Regions from separate parts of the Homo sapiens genome. Here region 1 is linked to region 2. The links come from fine-mapping of genetic effects on gene expression. A gene starts in region 2. The other region holds a variant in brackets. All regions are shown on one strand. Distances are between the middles of the regions.

The links. PIP is the estimated chance that this variant, and not a neighbour inherited with it, causes the effect. A credible set is the group of variants that fine-mapping cannot tell apart.
Region 1: its variant is the best candidate, but not a certain one, in a credible set for the expression of CLDN11 in skeletal muscle (GTEx, PIP 0.71).

What each region holds. Positions count from the first base shown.
Region 1 is chr3:170,526,979-170,537,465 of GRCh38, reverse strand. SLC7A14 (solute carrier family 7 member 14) reads left to right here. Exons shown (of 8, transcript NM_020949.3): 2 at 10,378-10,487. All of the region lies in intron 2 of SLC7A14-AS1 (SLC7A14 antisense RNA 1), which reads right to left. Among named protein-coding and RNA genes, the nearest start is that of SLC7A14, 54 kb to the left of the region's middle. The variant T/C (reference allele first, on the strand shown) is at 5,253.
Region 2 is chr3:170,412,293-170,422,779 of GRCh38, reverse strand. CLDN11 (claudin 11) reads right to left here and starts at 3,912. Exons shown (of 3, transcript NM_005602.6): 1 at 3,488-3,912. The coding sequence starts at 3,713. RefSeq lists an enhancer at 3,212-4,164.

The DNA.
Region 1 (10,487 bases), 110 kb before region 2:
GTTCTAATCTTCAGAATTTGTGACTATGACAAAGGGGACTCTGCAGAGGTGATTAAGTTAAGAATCTTGAGATGAGGAGATTATCCTGGATTAGAGAATAGATTTGATATAATTACAAGGATCCTTAGAACAGGGGAGCAGGGGATCAGAGAGGAGAGAAGATACTATGTTGCTGGTTTTGAAGAAGGAAAGAATCACAAGTCAAGGAATGCAGGTGACCTCTAAATTCTAGAGGCTGGAAAAGGCAAGGAAATAGACTGTCCCTGGAACTTCCGGAAGGTACACAGCCCTGCAGACTCAGAGCTGTAAAATATCAAATCTGTCATTTTTGGCCACTACATTTGTAGCCATTTGTTACAGCAGCCAGAGGGACCTAATACAAGAGGGAATTGTGTGAGATATGTGATAGCATTTCTCTATTTTGCCAGAAAGGCTTCCATTTCCTTCAGTATCTTAGGAGTCCAGTTAGTGTTCTGTCTTGAGTGTAAGGACATGCTGAGATGGGCATCCAGCCAGAGTGGGTGCAGATTGTCTTCTGGGGGCTCAGATTACACATGGCATGAAGGTGCCAGGCTGGATGATCTCAAATACAAATATTTTATGATCTCATCATTTCAGAATGGCCTCTACAATCACATTTGGGATGAGGAGACCAGAATTTTTGTGCAAAAAGCCACCTTATGCATCTCTCATGAGTACACTTTGCAACTATAGTGTTGCATTAAAAAGTCCCTATCAACATTTTCTAAATGAGAAAATAGAAACCTTAGCAAGCTGTGGCTTACTCAAGTCTCACCCATAGCTTGTCCTACGGGACTGGGACAAAACCTCCGGTCTCCTGATTCATGAGTACAGAGTATTCACTCTATATTCATGGTATGATAGTGTGCTCTCACTTTTCAGTGTTAATTTTGGAAATCTGCATGTATTTAGAAATGACCTATGGGCCCATCAGACTTCCCAATAACTTTTGTATGCAGTTAAACTCCAAGTAACTGGAAGGTTTGGGAAATATGTTCTAACTAATTAACTTTTCTGGCTAATCAAATATGAACCAGAAAAAATATTGCTATATCAGTCTTCCATTCAAAGTTTTTCTAAACTTTTATGGTTCACTCTTCTTCTTTGGCAAGCAAAGCATTGCAAACAGCTTATGATCTACTTCTGCTAATTACCAAGTCTCTTACGGTCTCTTAGCTATATTTGGGGCATTGGTCACATTTTCAATACCTACACTTATAGGTTGCTTTGTGGTTTCCAAACTGCATCCACAAGCATCATCTCATTAAATCCTCATGACAGGTTTACAAGGTAACTATTATTTCTCCTGTATTTCAGATAATAAAACTGACGCTCAGGGATTTTAAGATACAAACCCAAGGTCACACAGCAGAGTCAAAGCCCAGACCTCACTGTTCAGACTTCAAACCCAGTATCTCTGTAGACACAGCGGGTATTGTTGATTTCCTGAATCTATCTCAGCCGTCTAATATACCCATGTATCAGTCAGGATCCCAGCAGGAAGCACGTGGCACACTCAAGCCTGGTATTTTGAGGAAAGTTAGTGAAAAGAACTGTTAATATATATAAAGATGAGGGCAGTGGGCAGAGAAATCATGAGGCAAAATGCAGTTCCAAGGGCTAGAAACATGAGTACTACCCACTGCCTGAAATGACAGGGGGGATAAAGAAAGAATTATCAGAACCAGAGAGAGTTAGGGCTATGTGGAGAGGGCCACCTGGCTGGAGCCACAGCCAACCCACAGTGACCTGGCAAAGGGAAGCTAGGGATAAACACCTGGCCTGCCTCTCTTCCATCCTCCTGATCACCTGCTGGTGCCTCCCATTGACCAATCCAACCAGAGGGCAAGGGAGCATGTCAGCTCCCCAGGACACAGCCAGTGGGCTGCTGGGTGGATCTGGAAGGACAAGCAAAGGACACTCGCACTCCCTGAAGCTGCCTTGTGCCTAAATTCCTGATATTCTGTAGATTACAATAATTTATTTTATGGCCATAACAGCTACCATTGAACTAAACACACACCGGGAACTCATTAAATACTTTTGCAATGATTAATACAAATTCTTAAATCTTTTATGGTGGCATAGAAGGATTAACTGGTTTTTGGTATTATTTGTCCCTTCTAACAGAGAGGTTTCCCAGTAATATCTGATTAATGAAGAGTTTTTCATTTCCTGAACTCTGGTTTTGTTAATATTATCTTATATACAATGAATAACACATGACACCAAGCAGAGACCTGAGACCCTAACCTGGGAGACCCTGATCTGCGGGAGAAGAGTGGAAGGTGATGCCAGACTGTGGCCACACATGCAAGGACACCTAGCCCCAAGCAAAGACCTGAGGCACCGGACCTGAGGTCCATGGAAAAGGAGAGGAGAAGGTGATGTCAAACTGTGATACCCTCCCTGACTGGGGCATCGAAGGAGAAACGTGGTGTCTCAACGCTCAGTAACCAATCTCTGAACAAGCCTATCCTTCCTTCTCCAAGTAGATGCTCTTGAGAGTGTTTTCACCACAGTTTCCAACAAATATATACACAGAGAGTATTCGCAACTCTGGAGTGTTGACAAACAGGGGAGCAGAATGGGAAACTATTTGTGTCAGTAGAAATATTGTCCCAGACCAGGTAAAAATCAATTGTTTTCATAAGTTTTTTTTAAAGAATTATTTCAAGCAAACAAAATTAAACAGGTTTCTCTTTATTTTGTTCTGCCTGGTGTTGGAAGCAGATGAATTTTTAATTTACCTATTTACAGGCAATCATTATTTATATCTTTAAAGAATTAATTGTGGAAATGCAGGAATGAACACATCAGAGTCTTAAGTTTCTTCCTCAGATGTACAGATATCTGCCCATTTCAGAGAAAACAGCCTCAGAAGAAAAATATAATTGCTTTGCCTAGTGCATAGTAAGGGATCAGTGACATATCATCAAAACTGTTTACATCCTCCTTCATAAGAAAAGTGCACAACTTCGCCCTGTGCCATGTGACTCACCTGCCTTCAATGGGAGGAGGACACTTCTCACCCCACTAACTTTGGGCTTGGTCATATGACTTACTTTAGTTAATGGAAAGTCAGTGGAACTGCCAGTTCCCAGCACAAGCAGTAGAGACATTTTACATTTCCACCAGTTGTGCCACGAAAGAGCAGCATGCATCAGATAGGGATTGCTCCTTCAGCCTGAATCCTGGAATAAGAAGGCGTGTGGAGTAGACTCCCAGTCCAGATTGGGGAAAAGATCTGAAGCCGATCCACTGTCTGGAGTACAGCCACAGCAAGAGACAAACATCACCATTGTAATATTCAAATTTGGGGTTGTTTGTTACTACAGCAAAAGCTGATTAATATACTCAATAACTTTTTAGAAACAAACAAACAAAAAAAACCAACAAGCTTTGAAAAGGAAGCTTAATTGGTGCAATCTTATTTGCATAGCTAAAATATGCAGTCATTATAGATTCATAGTCCCCTTTAAAGATATTCCAAGTAAAACGAAGTTGGCTGTGTCTGAGACTCCACATACAATATAAACAGGCTAGCACATCATTAAATAATATGGTAGGTAATCAAAAAATATTTGAAGTGGGTTTGATCAAACACTCAGCAAAGATACAACTGAAAAAATTAGCCATCTGAAAATCAGGAACCCTGGTTTTAAAGCCAATCGTACATCTAAGTGAATTTGTCAGGCACCAACACTGCATGATTTAAGAGGCACGTGCTTGTGCACACATGTGTGTGCGTGCACACACACACACCACACACACACACACACACACACACACACTGGGCCAGATGGATCAAAAACATCTCCCTTACCACTCTGTCATGGTCCAAAAGTGTCAACCATGATAAGCTGCAGCCTATTCAAGAAGTACAAATCAGAATGTGGTTGATCTAGAAGCTATAACATGTGAGGCACTGTTGATCGCAGAAGAAATTGAAGATGTTTAGTCTAGGAAAGATAAGACTCCAAGATATATGTTAGTTGCTATCAAAAACTTGAAGACTTATCCCATAAGCAGATTAACTCTAATCTGTATAGATACAGAGAGCAAAACTGCAGACAACAGAAGAGAGTTACTGGGACACACATCACAGTTCAGTTTACCAGGATATTCTGTCAGAGCTGAGCAGACCCTGAGATTAAGACGCATCTGGCCTGTACCTGGCCACGTAGTATAAAGTCAGAGTGGCTGACATGCAAGCACATCCCCAGTTATGGTGCAAACATAAAGCCGTATCTGGTGAGCTTGGAAGGAGTAGAAGAGCAAGGACTTCAGGAGAGGATCCACCATCAAAGCTTATGCTAGCTGAGTGAGCCAGAGTAAGCCACAGGCATAAAAGTCAGAAGGGGATCATGTTTTCAGGGATGGGGTGGCAACTGAAGGTGAACCTACCATGGTCTAGCCATCCCAAAGGTATGTGTGCATCTTGGGGAAAAAAGTCAAAAGTATAGAAGAATGAGAGGAGGCATAACACCCAAAGGCCTAAGCAAATCTGCTGAAGGCCCCTTTAGATAAAGGAAAACAGGAAAGAGGAAAGCCGTTCTCCACAAGTTTGAGAAAGGTAAATAAGAATCCCTTGGAGTGGAAGTACCAGGTGCACAGGCTGCAGCCAGGAGAAACCCAGGGGAGGTTCAACAGAAAAAAGCCCTGATTAAGGACTTGGCATCAGGCCAAGGGCCCTCTGAGAGCTGCCTAAGGAGGTGAAGGTGGTGGGAAGGGTGTCAGTAGCAGGGAACAACAACAACAAAAAAAAAAAAACACCTGGTCAGGGGCCACAGCAGGGTGATGCTAGCTAACGCTCCCACAGCATGCACTATACGCCAGGCGCGGTACTAAAAGCTCTACACGTATTAGCTCTTCCACTCCTCACCACAACCCTGTGAGCTAGGTACCACTGTGATCCCATTTTACAAATGGCAAAACTGACGCATAGTGAGGTTTGCCCAAGGTCACTTAGTTAGTAAAGGCAGAGGCAGAATTTGCATGCAGGGCACCTGGTTCCTGAATTGTGTTCTTAACCCAGAGCCAGGAGCTCAGCCCAGAGGAAGAAAAGCAGGGAGGTGGTGAGAGGGTTAGCCAAGACCTGGATGCGGGAGTGGGCAGAGACCTCAGAAGGGTCCTCAGATCCCACAGTCACCAGGTGGGGCTCAGAAAACCAGGCAACGTTTACTCTAACTGCAGCCTCATTTTTCCTGGGGACATCAATTAAAAGAATC[T/C]TGTAGCAATCCTAACTGTCCCACCACGTGAAAGGGCTGCTTCTATCAGCCAATGTTCCCTGCGGCCCAGATGTTCCAGAAAAAGCTGGACAACTACTCATCGAGTGTGTCATGAGGGATTTTTGTAGTCCCTTAGCATATTTGCAAAATCAGGCAGGAATGATTACTGGCTGTTTACTGTTTTGTTAGCCTTCGTTTCCTTCCTCTCCTCACCTCCAAAGGCAGTCTCTAGCCTAATTCGATAATCCTACTCATTCAGTGAACTACTCAACTGTAATTATTTGCATCCTGAAACAAACCTGCTTTTATCATCATTATCCTTGGAGCCCACTGAACCCTCGAGCATGCCAGCAAGCACCACAATGATGACTCTCTTCTCCCAGAGGCCCTGTAAGCCTTCCTTAGTTATAGCTGTGAAGTATTTTGAGAAACCTGAATTAAAGTGCTAGAGAAAGCACAACACACATTTATTGCTCATCTTGGAAAGACAACAGCAATGAGCTTCCAAAACTATATTTGATTAACATAATCTGGGGGTAATGAATATGGATATTGCCAATAGTCACCTAGAAGCATGTTTTCTTTTGTACATTTTGTTCTCTCCAGTACATTTCCTACCAAGAAAGGAAATGGTCCCAACTCCCTGTTTGCATCAATAAAGCAAGCACTCAGGGGAATTGCGTGAAGAGAATAGGACCAGGGGGCATTCTTGCCACCCTCAACCTTTGCTTTTGGTTGATTCTCCACATTTTCAATACGGTTTCTAATTACCAGGAATACGAAGTGCAAATAGAAGCCATCACTTTCATAAAAAGGCTGGTTTGTTTCTCGGTGTCCTTGTGACAGTTTCTGATGAAGGCTGAACAGGACAAGTAGCCCAGGAGATATCTCCAGACAGTGCCGCCTCCATAGTCATTGCCTGCCGAGGAGAGCTGTTAAGAGGCCCCATGACCTGCCCAGGGAAGGAAACCGGAAGTACCTGTCAGAGTAGTGGCCTCCTGTGGAAAACAGCAATATCTGGTTTTCCACACGGAGCATTTGTCATTATGCCTGGCATGGGGCAGGGAACCTCAATTCTGCTGTGCTAGCATAAGCTGGGGCATTTAAAGAACCCCTGTATATAGGCCATACTTCAGGCAAATTACATTAGAATTTTGGGGATGGGGCACAGGCACCAGCATTTCTGAAAGATCCTTGGGTATTTCCAACGTGCAACCAAGATGGAGAGCCACTGCCAAGGGTCTCAAGATGGGAAACCATTCACCACCCCTCAAAAGCGGGCATGAAGCCCACCTGCATTTACCACAGCCACAACCTGCCGCAGGGCCTCTCTCCTCGATTCCAGCAGCGCACAGCTTGTGAGGTTCTCCTGGAGCCGGCTGACAATTTTTCTCCCTCCTGCATAGTGTCCTGTGTACAGGCACTGCCCTGGCTGCAGAGTCCCACTGGCTTATAGATCTCTGCTTACTTGTCGGCCTCCCCGCTGCAGCAGGTCCACACCCCTCGCCTTTTTACATCCATCCCGGGCTGCCTTAAAGGATCCCAGGGCCCAAGATTCTGCCGCAGCTACAATGAGCTTTTAGAAAGTAAGTCATCTCATATTGCTCACCTGAATAAAAGCCTCCAAGGGCTTCTCACTGCACTAAATATCCAAATCACATCCCTGTTATCTTGGCTGACCAGCCCCCTGGCAGTCTGACCTCTGCGCATCTTAAGCAAGAGAGCCCCACGGAGCCCAGGGCCAAGCTCTGGCTCTGGTGACTTTGGGTAAGTGACTGCCCTTCTCCCGGCCTACTTTGCCTCATCTGTAAAGGGAGATATGTTGTGAGGATTTAATTAGTCAACACGACACTCAAATCCTCCTCCTTACCCCATACCAGTCTCACTTAGATCCCAGCAGATGCAACACCCGCTCTATCCTCTTGAACCACAATGTGAGGAGCATTTCCCTGACATCTGGTACAACTGGCTTCTTTGCACCACTCAGGAGCCAATGCCATGTCCACAGAGACCTTCCCACCCCTTTATCACCCCCATTTTATTTCCTCTAAGCCTGTACTAGTTTGCTAGGGCTGCCATAACAAAGTATTGTGTTGGTGCAAAAGTAATTGCGGTTTTTGCAATTTGTGCTTTACTGCAATTACTTTTGTGCCAACCTAATACCACGGTCCATGTGGCTTAAGCAATAGAAATGTATTGTCTCACCATTCTGGAGTCTAGAAATCCAAGACTAAGGTGTCAGCAGGGTTGGCTTCTTAGAGCTATGAGGAAGAATCCGTTCCCTGCCTCTTTTCTAGCTTCTGGTGTTTTCGTGGCAATCTGAGGCATCCCTTTGCTTGTAGAGGCATAACCCCCATGTCTGTTCTCCCTGTGTGTGTGACTTTGTTTACAAATTTCCCCTTTTTATAAGGACATCAGTCATATGGACTAAGGGCCCATTCTACTTTGGTATGACCTCCCCCCAACTAATTTCATCTATAATGATATTATTTCCATATACAGTCACATTCTGAGGTGTGGTGGCTAGGACTCCAACATTCTAATTTGGGGGGGCCATGATTCAGCCCATAACACAGTCTGTATCCCTCTCTGAAACTGACTGATTTTATCTGTCAGCCTGTGTATTGCCTCCTCCCTCTTCACCAAACGTCAGCACCATGACAGCAGGACTTTGAATGTCTCATTTGCCACAGCAACTGCTACCTAAGGCTGGGCTGACACAGAGAAGATGCTTTGTATAGTTTCTTGAACGGATGAATTAAAACTAAAGCAACAGGCCAATTTTCTGAATAAAAACACTGAAGCCACAATAGTGAAGCTACTACTCAGTTATTAAAAATGATGTTTCCATAACTATTGATGTGGGAAAACATTCTAACATATTGTTAAGCAAAACAAGAAAGTTTCAAATCAGAATAAATGATATAACATTTATAAAACACACACACATATATATATGTCCATTCAAATAGGTGTGTAGTTACATAGAAAAGGGTCTGAAAGAATATAAATCAAGTTGTAGCTAGCTGGGTGGTATCTTATTTACTCATGTGGTTCTTTGTTGTTTATATTGTCTGACTTTTCTGCAATAGATATGCGATGTTTGTGTAAAAAGAGAAATAATAAAGGCCAAGCTTTTCAGGGAAAAACAAAAATAAACCCTCTCACTTGCAGTGTGATTTGGCGTCCACTATCTCTCATCCCAGGCTGCAAGCTCCATGGGAGCAGGGACTATGTCTTTGCATCTACAAGCCTCACGCCATGCTTGGCACATAACAGGTGTTCCTTATATGCTGGCTGAGTGGAAATAAATAGACACGTGGATTCATGTCCCCACAAGACCTCAACCAAAGCAGTTGTTCTAGCGGCCTTCTCGGTAAACATATGGTATATTTTCTTGCCAATACGAAAATCTTTAGAAGAAGAAAGAGGAGAGGAGGAAGGGGACGTGGAAGGGAGGAATGCAGACACTCTAGCCTGTTAAATATCTCTGGCGTGTTATCCAACTATAGTGATATCTAAGGTGTTGTCAAGAATAAAAACACAGCACGAAGCCACACTGTCAAAGCTAGGAAAAAATTAAACCAGAAAGGCTGTCACCCAAACCTGTGAACCAAACAGCCACATTTCACCTGATTCTTCTAATTAGCGTTTGAAAAGCCTTTAGAAGCAGACAAGTGCTACATTAAGTGCTTAGTATTCATTAATACTATGAGTAGATGAGGTAGGCAGGTACTTACTGATTATATAAATGTCCTGAGCTTGTCAGTACAGTATTTGGAATCAACGTCTGGCTATACTTCAAAAATTCTATACATTTATGAGTTTTATAAATTTTATACAGTTTTTATAAATTTTCTCCAGCTTCCGGCTTCCAAAGAATGTAGCTTCATATATTTGCAGTTCCTAATTTACTAAACTTTAGAAATTACCTAACACTGTAGTTCTTAATTCTATCAGATCCAACACCCCTTTTTATAATAAATACTTTGTCATACCTCCTTTTAGTATCCTGAAGTGAAATTATTGATCATCTACCTATATACAACATATTTCAGTGTGTAAATACCCAGGCATATCCAAATGACGGTGTCAAATGCTTGCACTATGTGAAAAATCACCGCAAACGTGCCAGTTCCAGATGGCAGGCTGTTCCAGGGTGCAGCATGAGAAATGCAATACCACGGGTGGCATTCCCATGGGGTCCTTGGTTTTCTGAAAGGGCAAACAACTCCTCTTAAGTTCCAAACTAAATACATTATAATCTTCCTTTGATTTATTCTATAGTTGTATTCCTGGAAAATTCAATTTACTTGTATATTAAGGCTATCCAAAATATCCTATGAGTTTATATGTAAAAGAGAGTGAGTTGACAGGCTCAGATCATCATCACCAGGATTTTTATCTACAGGAAAGTCAAGCAAAATATCTAAAAGTTGTGTGACAACATCCTACACAACTCACATCTCAGGTTCCCCCCAGATGCCAGGAGTACTCCCCACCATTCCAATGTTTGAGAGTAAAAAAAATTCCCAAAACATTTTTTATTTCATTTGGGAGCCAAGTGCCAAAATAACCCATGGGGTGGCATGGCCCCTCTTAAGACTCATGGATCTAATTTTACATTTTTATGTTAAAAAACATGTAGATATCATGTCCCCTCAAAATATGCCCAAGAATCACAGACCAAGTATTGGCAAAGTAAGAGGTAGTTAGAGTTGAGATGGATGAGCACTTTCCATACGCCAGGCATTTTCTTAAGCTCCTTATGGACGTCACTCATCTAATCTTCACATCAACACTAGGAGAGAGACTTTATTGTCCCATTGGACAGCTGAGACTGAAACACAGACATGGCTTACCCAAGACCACAGAGCAGTAAGTGGCAGAGCTCTAACTCAGACCATCCTCATCAGGATGACTGTGCAACACAGTGCACGCGCCGGCAGTCCTTTAGGACTGGAGAGAAGAGCAAGGAGAGTGGAACCATGGAACCCTTCCGTGTTATGAGCACACGGGTAGACCAGTTCTACCAGTTCAGGACATTAACCTCCAACCATCCCCGCAAGTCAAGGTTTGTTTCTCACTCGGTCTCATCTTCTGCTTTCTTGTGTTTTTCCTGCAGACATTCATGCCCAGGAGAAGGCTGCACTGGGTCCCTCTGGGCCTTTCCTAAAAGGGAGATCCCTGTTCACTAGATGAGTTCCAGAACCATCCACTAAGGCTTTGTAGCCC
Region 2 (10,487 bases):
CTTGGGCAAGTTACTTAACCATGATGTCTTATTTTCCACATCTATAAAGTAACAACAGGCCAGGCATGGTGGCTCACACCTCTAATCCCAGCACTTTGGGAGGCCAAGGCAGGTGGATCTTCTGAGGTCAGGAGTTCAAGATCAGCCTGGCCAACAGGGCGAAACCCCATCTCTACTAAAAATACAAAAATTAGCCTGGTGTGGTGGTGTGAGCCTGTAGTCCCAGCTACTTGGGGAGGCTGAGGCAGCAGAATCGCTTGAACCTGAGAGGGGGAGGTTGCAGTGAGCTGAGATCGAGCCACTGCACTCCAGCCCAGGTGACAGAGCGAGACTCTTTCTCAAAATAAATAAATAAATAAACAAACAAAGTATTGATAATAATATAATAGTACCTACATCTCTGTAATAGAATTCTACTGAAGATTACATTAGTTAATTTATTTAGTGCTTAAAACAGTGCCTATACCAAATCCTCAAAAAAGGTTAGTTGTTATCATTGGTGTTCTTTGTCTGTCTCAGTGCAGCGCTTTCATCTTCAGGTGTCCTAGGTGATTTTCTCCTAACCATGTGCTTTCATTCACATTGGCTGTGGCCCTAACCCAGACTAAACTAAGACTCAGGCTTCCTCTCTTTGCTGTCTCCCCAGAGGCTGCTGTCCTCATGGATCCTGCCCCTAAATTGTTGGACCCCATCTCCTGCCTCACCCACAGTGCCCTGGGCATCCTTCCCCAACTGTCCATCATTGCTTAAAAGGCATCTCTCCAGCCCTCAGGGTTCCTGGAGGGCAGACACCTGCCTTGGTATTCACGGAGTTAACACAGTGCCCACAACAGATCATGGAAACAATTGCGAATCAAGGAATAAGAGAACTGAAAAATAGAAGAGTAGAGCAAAACTACATGAACTTTATCCTGTCAAGTAAAATGCCAAGTAAAAACTGTATTAAGAAACAGATTACAATATGTGTCACATTTATTTAGAATAAATCTGACAAGATACTGGGAGAATTTCACAGACAAATTTGTTTCACTTTCAAATGTAATGTTTCTCATTAAAACTCTCCCTCCTCTTAAAAAAGGTGGGGGGGGTCACATTTATTACCCTCCCTTTTTTGCTCAGAAGGAACTAGTACTAGTGGCCTGGGTGAGGCAGAGTTCATAGCAAAGCCAGGAATCTAGCCGACATCTGCCTCACACACCACGACCCTCACGTGCAAAAAGGCCTAACTTCAACGCTGTCTCTTAGCAAGGAACGTTTTGCCAGAATTCGGACTTCACAAGGGCCCTCTTCCAGCACTGCCCATCTCAGCTCCTTCAGAATTAAAGATAATCAGTCAAGTGTCTACTGACTTGAAGATCTCCAGAAAGGAGCTCCAGGAAGTCTGAGGCCCATCCCCTGACCCAGCCGTCCGCCTCTGCGGCTTGTAGAGAGCCAGTACTCACACAAAGCAGGCAGTCAACTGGCAATGCAGGTTCTGAAATCCATGGCACTGGCTGTCCACATGCTACAGTGCCAAGGCCATGTCCGGACACCAAAAGATAGGGACAGAGGACTGTTCCTGCCTCCACCCAAAGTATGAGGGAGGGGGAAGGCAGGAAGGACTAGCGCCGCCCCCCACCCCCCCCCCACCCCCAGAGTATGCACTCCCCTCTGGAGGACAGCCTTTGTTCTCTGAAAACAAACCACTTGGCACTGAATGCTCAGTAAAGTTAATTTCAGGAGAAGAAAACAAAGTTAATTTTATGCTTCAAAGATCCCTACAAATACCATGCCCAGCTTTTAATAAAATACTATAGGTACCATTCATGAAGCATCTACTATCTCAAAGGAGATTACATTTCTTATCTCATTTAATCCTCAAATAATCGTGAAAGATGGGTGGTTGATCTGATTTTAACTTTTAAAAGAAGACAACCGTGGTTCACTGAGGCTAGCAATTTGTCCCCCCTCACCCAGATTGTGAGTCCTGGATGCCGGAGGCTGGCCCGGGTCTGCCAACACCAGCATTAGCCAAAGCTGAGTCTAGATCTGCGTTCGTTGACCTCTGGCCTTCTGAAAGTTCAAAATGAAGGAAAGGATAGCGTAAGGCAAACCAGGCAAGCACTGCCCGCAGCTATTGTGTGCCAGAGGCCATGCCAGGTCCAGAAGAGGAAGCAAAGAGAATAACAGGACGCCATCTCTATCTTCAAGGAATTTAAAACGTAGTGGGAGAACTTCACTCACGAACAATCAACAAAAAACAAGATAAAATGTGCCTTTGTGAGGATAAGAGCCAAGTACTAGGCAGCAAGGAGAAAGGAGGGATTCAGATTCCGACTGCGAGGACCGGAAATAGGGCGTGCTTGGAGGAGGCTTAAGGGGCGAGCACAGTCTTATCTGACTGGCGGCTTCAGGGACAGGTTTCTCCCCATCTTGAGGAAACCGGGAAAATCCTTTAAGTGAGCACAATCCACGAAGGCTGGGGGACAGAAGCCCACCTTGTAGGGACATGCCTTGGGGGTAGAGCAGAGATTCCAGCAGAAAACCAAGGGGGTGCCCGCGACCTCGCCATTGCCCAACCCATTGGTTTAAATCTGAATTGAGGCTGTCGCCCAAAATGTTTCCACAGGACACATGTGAAAATGTGGCCCCTGGCCGGCGCTAGGCTGTCAATTTTTACCTCCCCTTCCCAATCTGAGACACGCTGGAGGGGTGGCGGCGAGCGACCCTCGGCGGCGCGCTCCGTATCTCCCCAGTGGAGTCCGCCCTCCGAGGAGCGCCCGCTCGTCCCTATCCAACCCAGCGGCGCGGAGCGGGAGCCGGCGTCACCGCAGCCCCGCAGTCTGACGCGCCCACAGCAGGGGCGGGGGTAGCGGGGGCAGCGGAGATGGCCCTGGGCACGTGCGGGAATCAACGTGACATTTCCCAAACCAGGCAGCCCAGAGAGCCCTGGACGTGAATTGCTCAGCGGCTGCGCGGACGGAGCTAGGAGGGCTCTAACCTGGCCGGGGGCGCTTCGCCCATCCCATGAGGACCGAGAAACTCAGCCTGAGCCGGTTCGATTCTCCTGTCAGCTTGTGTTACACGCTCCTTCTCACCTCTGCGGGCGGAACCTAACGCGAAGGCTCGGCGCCCCGGGGGAGGCCGGGCGGGAGCGGGAAGCACTTCGGGAAGCGGACGGTGGAAGGATGCGGGCTGGGACCGCAGTAATTAACACGGACTCAGTTCCTATTAGGTGTTCCGGTTTGTTCATTCTCAAAGGGACCCGGCCAGTGTTACCACCGGCCACATTGCCACTATTATCTCAAATTCCAGATAAGAATACTGCGGCCTAGAGAAGTTAAGTTCGGGGCTGCCTAATTCTTTTACAACAAGGTGGGACTAGGGATGTCAAAAACGTACCCAAAGGTCTTCAAGCCCCCAAAATGTCTCTGTGACGCCGTCTAATATCCCGCTCTCTACCCAGAGGATAAGGATTTGGGAGCCGCCGCCAAGCTCGGGTCCTTACCCGGCAGGATGAGGATGTCCACCAGGGGCTTGCAGTGGTACAGCCCCGTGGCCATGACGCAGTCGGCCCACAGCCCCTTGGAGCCCAGCTCATCCAGCTTGCGGCAGGTGGGGATGGTGTAGCCGCAGGTCACCACCCAGTCATTGGTGGAGGTGGTCACGATGACCCCGATCCAGCCCACGAAGCTCGTGACGAAGCCCACCACCTGCAGGCACGTGGCCACCATGGTGGCCGCCAGGATGTCCCCGTGCCTCGCCCCTCACGGCTGTGCCTGGGCCTGGGCTGGACAGTGCCTGCCCAGGTACGTCTCCCACGCTCGCGAGCCGCTGGAGGGCGACGGCCCGAGGCGGGACACTGGAGGTGGAGGTGGGCGCCGGAGGCTGCGAGCTCAGCGGCGAAGGGCGCACGGCGGGGACAGCAGCGCTGCTGGGCAGCGCGCCCCCGCCCCCTCTTTAAGCCCCGCGGCTCCGGCCGGCGAGCACCAATCGGCGGCAGCCCCGGGGCGCGCCGGCCAATCGCGGGGCGGGGCCGGGAGGGAAGCGTGAAGGGGAGCAGAGTAACCCCAGGGGGGCCATTGGGCCGCCCCACCCCGTCCGCAGCGCAGTCCGGCGATGCAAAGTAAAACAATTCCATCCAGGTCCAGAGAAACGGAGAGCGCAAAGAGGGCGTGCGTTTGTCGAGAGTTCTGTTTTCCTGCGACTGGTTTCTCTTCTTATAGCCCCTCTCTCATCTCAGTCTCTGGGTGTCCATTCCGCTCCGACCCTCCTCAGCTCCTCCCTGCTCGCTCCTTCTTCCCTGCTGCGAGCACTCCAAGGGCGCTCGGTACAGTCCCCCGACGACCCAGGATTGTGACAGACTGAAAAGTGCAGTAGGGACAAACGCGAGGCATTCAGTACACACAGTTACTAGAAGAAAGAAAACGATGCTTTTCAGTGGTTGAACATCATCAGCGGCAAACGTGGCCATAATAATCAACAATAGCAACTCACATTTATCGAGCTGTGTTATATATTATGCAGATGCATTTTACATGCATTAGCTCATTTAATCCTCATAACAGCCTTTGAGGTAGGAACAATTGTCAATGACACATACTAGGCCGGGAGTGGTGGCTCACACCTGTAATCCCAGAACTTTGGGAGGCCAAGGTGGGCGGATCACCTAAGGTCAGGAGTTCGAGACCAGCCTGACCAACATGGTGAAACTCCATCTCTACAGAAAATACAAAAATGAGCCGGGCATGGTGGCGCATGCCTGTAACCCCAGCTGCTTGGGAGGCTGAGGCAGGAGAATAACTTGAAGGAGGTTGCAGTGCGCCAAGATCGTGCCACTGCACTCCAGCCTGGGCAACTGAGTGAGACAACGTCTCAAAAGCAAACAACAACAACAACAACAAATTACACGCACTAGCCATAGAGAAACAGCACAAGAAGGTTGAGTTGCCCAAGTTCACGCAGCTAGGAAGGGGTAGATACCATGGGCCCATCTCATCCCTTTCACGAACTGTTTCTAGGAAACTGTCCTGATCAGTCTGAAAATTCCTAAGGGGTTCATGTGTCCCATTTTAGACGCATTAAAAGCTACAGCAGACTTCTCTGGCTCACTGTAAATAAATTAATATCTGTACCCCACTGAGAAAACTGCCTAGCCCAGAATGAGCGCTCTGATAGTGTAAAGCTATCATCATCACCATCAACATCATTAAGCCACCATGCATACAAATAGGCCGCATTATTTGCACCTTTTTATTCAGATAGGGAAGTCTTCCTTGAGCTGCATTTACATTCAACAGTTTTCACTCCCTTTGAAACATTTGGCTTATCTTATTATCTCCTTCTATCCATTCCCTTGGACCACTGCCTCCTCACCAATCATGAGACTTAAAGGTGTGAGGATTTCAGAAAGCACAAAAACTTCCTGCTCAGCGTTCTAAAATCTAAGATACTAACCATAAATCATAGGTACTGAGCTTTCCCAAAGCCAGCCCTAATGCTGGTTATCAGTGCAATCACCATGTCTTCTAGGAAAGCCTGGACTTGAGGAGACAATTACATTTCCCTGGAGACCCCAAGGAAATCAAGTGCACACACAGAAATGGCTCTTGTAATTGATAGCAGAGTGTCAAGTACAAGGGTCACAGTAATCACCCAGGAAGCACAGTGACTAAGAACACAGTCCAACTGCCCAAGTTCAAATCTTGGCTCCATCACTTTCTGGCTGTGAGACCAAGTTACTTTATCATTCTTGGCCTCCTTTTCTCATTTGTAAAATAAGGATGAAAACTGTACCTACCTCATAGACTTTTTTTTTTATTCTGTGAGCTATTAGGTTGGTGCAAAGTATTAAACATAACGGCAAAAACCACGATTACTTTTATACCAACCTAGTAATATATATGCAGAACTTAAAGTAACATTGGTACAAAGTAAGTATTCAGAAACCCCTGGCTAATGTGATGCTTCAGAACGTTGTTGTTGTTGTTGCCGTTGTTGTTGTTTTGAGACAAGATCTGTGTCACCCTGTCTACAGTTCAGTGGCGTGATCACAGCTCATTGTAGCCTTGAACCCCGGGACTCAAGTGATCCTCCCACCTCAGCCTCCTGAGTAGCTAGGACTACAGGCATGAGTCACTATGCCCAGCTAATCTTTCTTATTATTAGTAGAGAGAAGGTCTCACTATGTTGCCCAAGCTGGTCTTGAACTCCTGCGCTCAAGCAATTCACCTGCCTTGGCCTCCCAAAGTGCTGGGATTATAATAGGCATGAGCCAGCAGGCTTGGCCTGATTTTGCATTCTTATGTATCCTCCCTATATTCGTATGAGTTTGATTTGTGGAAACTATTCCATAGGAGTATGTTCTGAGTGAGCCATTGTGTTTGGGGGACGTTTCATCACCAGGGTCTATGGACTGAATGTTTTCAGATATTTCCTTATAACACTTTTTTAAAATGGCTTTTGTGCTAAATACAACATAAAACATAAAACCCAAGCAACATCAACTTCTTGTAAAAGCACTCATGGAATCTGCACTCTTATGCCTCCATTAGAATTTGACATTCGAACCATGAAACTTCAACCAATCAGAATATAATAATGCCCAGATCATCCACAGGTCACACACACATAGTGTTTGTAAAGCCAGATTTCAGAACTCAGGCACTAAATGGTAAAAAAAAAAAAAAAAAAAAAAAAAAATTGCCAAGTTGTTAAGATTGCTGTCTTGGACTGGGACCTCCTAGGTTCACATTCTGTCTTCACCACTTGAGCTGGCCCTTCACCTACGTGACTCTCAGGTTCTTCATGTACAAAGTGAGATAGTAAATGCCCCCTTAGGGCATGGTGAGGATCAAGTGAGATAATTTATATGAAGTACTCAGCATAGTGCCCAGCACTGCTGGACACTCATTCACATTAGACACTGTTAGAATGATTTATAGGAAGCGTAGATTAATTGGAAGTGGGAGTTCCCTTTGGTAGAGATACAAGCTAAATAATTAGGGTATTATTATTATCCAATGAAAGCAATTGTAAAGCCAGTGTCTAATCCATTCCAGCATAGATGTACAAAAGGCCACTTGAGGAGGCCACAAGATGTAACCTGTTTGAATTCATTAGCCCAAGGTAAAGAGAGGGCTTGTCCCTTCAAAAGGAAGGCAGGAAGCCATGGAAGCAAAGAGAACTGGGGGCCAAGAGGCAGAGAGACGCAATGGGAATCCTTGACTATTTTCAGAGTCTGTGGCTCACAGACTCTGAGGATGCGGTGCCATTAGCAAGGCTCTGTAGGGTGGGGAAGTCCCTCAAGCTATCTTAGCTGAGACTTTTGCTAAAATCATCCACATTGCGGCCAGGCACAGTGGCTCACCCCTGTAATCCCATCACTTTGGGAGACCAAGGCGGGTGGATAACGAGGTCAGGAGTTCGAGACCAGTCTGGCCAACATGGTGAAACCCCGTCTCGGGGTTTCAAAATTATACAAAAATTAGCTGGGCGTGGTGGCAGGTGCCTGTAATCCCAGCTACTCAAGAGGCTGAGGCAGGAGAATCTCTTGAACCTGGGAGGCGGAGGTTGCAGTGAGCCGAGATCGTGCCATTGCACTCCAGCCTGGGTGACAAGAGCAAGACTCCATATCAAATATATATATATATATATATATACAAAATTAGCCAGGCATGGTGGCACATGCCTGTAATCCCAGCTACTCAGGAGGCTGAGGCAGGAGAATCGCTTGAACCCGGGAGGCGGAGGTTGCAGTGAGCCGAGATCATGCCATTGCACTCCAGCCTGGGCAACAAGAGCAAACTCTGTCTCAAAAAAAAAAAAAATATCATCCACATTGCTTGGCTGTGGCTCTCCTCCCAAACCCTCTTTGTGATTAAGACCTGACTTCCCATGCAGCACAACTTACTAAACTGATATTCTGGGTCTGTCACAGTCTCAGGTACCCTTTAGTTGTAAGAGTCAGTCTCTCAAGGTCTAATCACCCTCAGATAAACGTCAATCGTTGGTCCCCAGACCATCCAGACAAAGGTCTTCTCAGTTAATTTTTTCTCAGCAAACTCTGCCATGCCATCTTTTCACATTTCCACAGTACATATCAGAACTAGGAAGGTAGAGCTGAGACCTGATTTCAGGTCTTCTAACCCTAAGTCCAATGTTTTTTTCCATTATAAAAAAAAATATAAGATGAGTCATATGCTCTGTGGCTTGAGCGTAAGTTCGTTCCTTCATCTTACTCTTATTCAAAGGTATTTGAAGGGGAGGATTAGGGGATTAGGGCCAGTAAGGCCCTAAAACCCAGATGTGAACTAAACAAAGGAAAAGGCCTGGTTAACTGTTCTTCTACCATTTACACCCAAAAATAGTCAATCAAACTAAAATGCTATTCAGATACAGCACGAATGCATACCACAAAGCAGATGTGACTGCTGGCAAGCATCAAAACCCCACATTGAGAGCAAAGTTTGGGCCAACGAGTAGGCTCTTAGCGCCTGCTAGTGGTTATCTTTTATCATTGCATGGCTGGTAAAAAACTGAAGGGAGCTGTAACTTGTAGAGAAACATGATTAACCTCAGCTTTGCACATTCCAAATGAGGGATAATTAAACCCAACTGGAATGTGCATTTCTCTGTGGAAGTTTTCTTCATATATTTTAAAAAGATGATTCACCTCTTTAGAAAACCAAACATGAAAACACAGGACATATATGAAATTACTTAAGCAAGATTACTCAATTAAAAAATCAAGTACTTCTACTAGGCCCTTATTTACTTATTTATTTATTTTGTTAGAGACAGAGTCTTGCTGTCCCCCTGGAGGCTGAAGTGTGGCGGCACAAACATAGCTCACTGTAACCTCGAACTCTGGGCCCAAGTGATTCTCCCACCTCAGCCTCCTGAATAGCTAGGACTATAGGTGCACACCACCACACCTGGCTAATTTTTTTATTGTTGTATTTTTTATAGAGATGGGGGAGGGGTCTCTGTATTGCCCAGGCTGGTCTCAAACTCTTGGCCTCAAAAGATACCCCCATCTCAGCTCCCCATCACATCCGGCCTGGGGACCTCTTTTTAAGGGATAAATTCCTCTGGTGGATTTTAAATATTTGATGATACACACATACACACATTTTTAGAAATACTGTAGAACAAATTCATAGCATAAAAAGAATATCAAACATAGGCTTTAAAAATGAAATGACCTGTAAGTTTCAGGATTTTGTCTATTTTGTTCATCACCGAAACTGTTGAATGTGGCACAGTACGTGGCATACACAAAGGCACTCAATACATACCTGTTGAATGGAGCTGACTGAAGGGTTGAAAGGGAGAGATTGAATTTGCAAGCCTACAAGTTCCACTAGGATGAGAACCTGAAGACACCATGCAGAAGAAATCAGGAGGTGGTGATTGGAGCTGGTCTAGGGAGTGGGCAAGAGGCAGAGTACAGCTCTTTGTGGTCTCGGGTACCCACCTGCCGCCCACAGGAAAGTGAAGCCTTCAGCAGTAGAAGGGATGTGTACTGCTCAGGTCTCAAACAGAAAAGTCTCTAATTACCTAGACACGCTGGCCTCAATGCATATACTTCCAGCAGAGAAGAGTGGCACCTTCACAATTCACTTCCACCTGGAGATTCAAATTCAGCTACGAGAGGGGAAAAAATTCCTTTTCAGGAAATTTCTCCAACAATCACTGTGGAAAACACACCAGGTTCTCTAGAACAGACAACAGGGCTCCAGGTGCTCCCCCATATCTTGCCCTTTCTTCACAGTGCAACTAGAATATCATTCCTTCAGAAGCCATTTCATCCCAAATTTCCCTTCCTTCAGCTTGTAGATAGAGTAAAATAATGAAAAACTTGTACCTGGAGTTTTAGGCTTGAATCCTCTCAGAGTGTTTTCTCTCTTCAAGTAGCAATTCTATTCATCCACTTCTCTGCCAAGAGTCTCAGACTGCATTAAATGATATCCTGTCTAATTCAACCTATGAGATCATAGTTCCTGAAGAAGAGCAAAAGTCCTTATTTTTAGCCCAAATTCAACTAGCGATTACATTTTCAGAAAACATAGTAGTAATAGAGTATATAAGTGCTGAAGTGAAAAATAAGGAAATAATCTAACTAAAAAGCCACATCTTTAAATTCTCTATCTTAATAATTAAGGGGCAGGGCACGGTGGCTCACGCCTGTAATCCTAGCACTTTGGGAGGCCAAGGCAGGCAGGTCACCTGAGGTCAGGAGTTCGAGACCAGCCTGGCCAACATGGTGAAACCCTGTCTCTACTAAAAATACAAAAAATAGCTCAGTGTGATGGTGGGTGCCTGTAATCCCAGCTACTTGGGAGGCTGAGGCACCAGAATCATTTGAATCCAGGAGGCAGAGGTTGCAGTGAGCTAAGATCACGCCACTGCACTCCACCCTGGGCAACAGAGTGAGACTCTGGCTCCCAATAATAATAATAATAATAAAGAACAGGTGTTTGTCGGCCAGGCGCAGTGGTTCACAC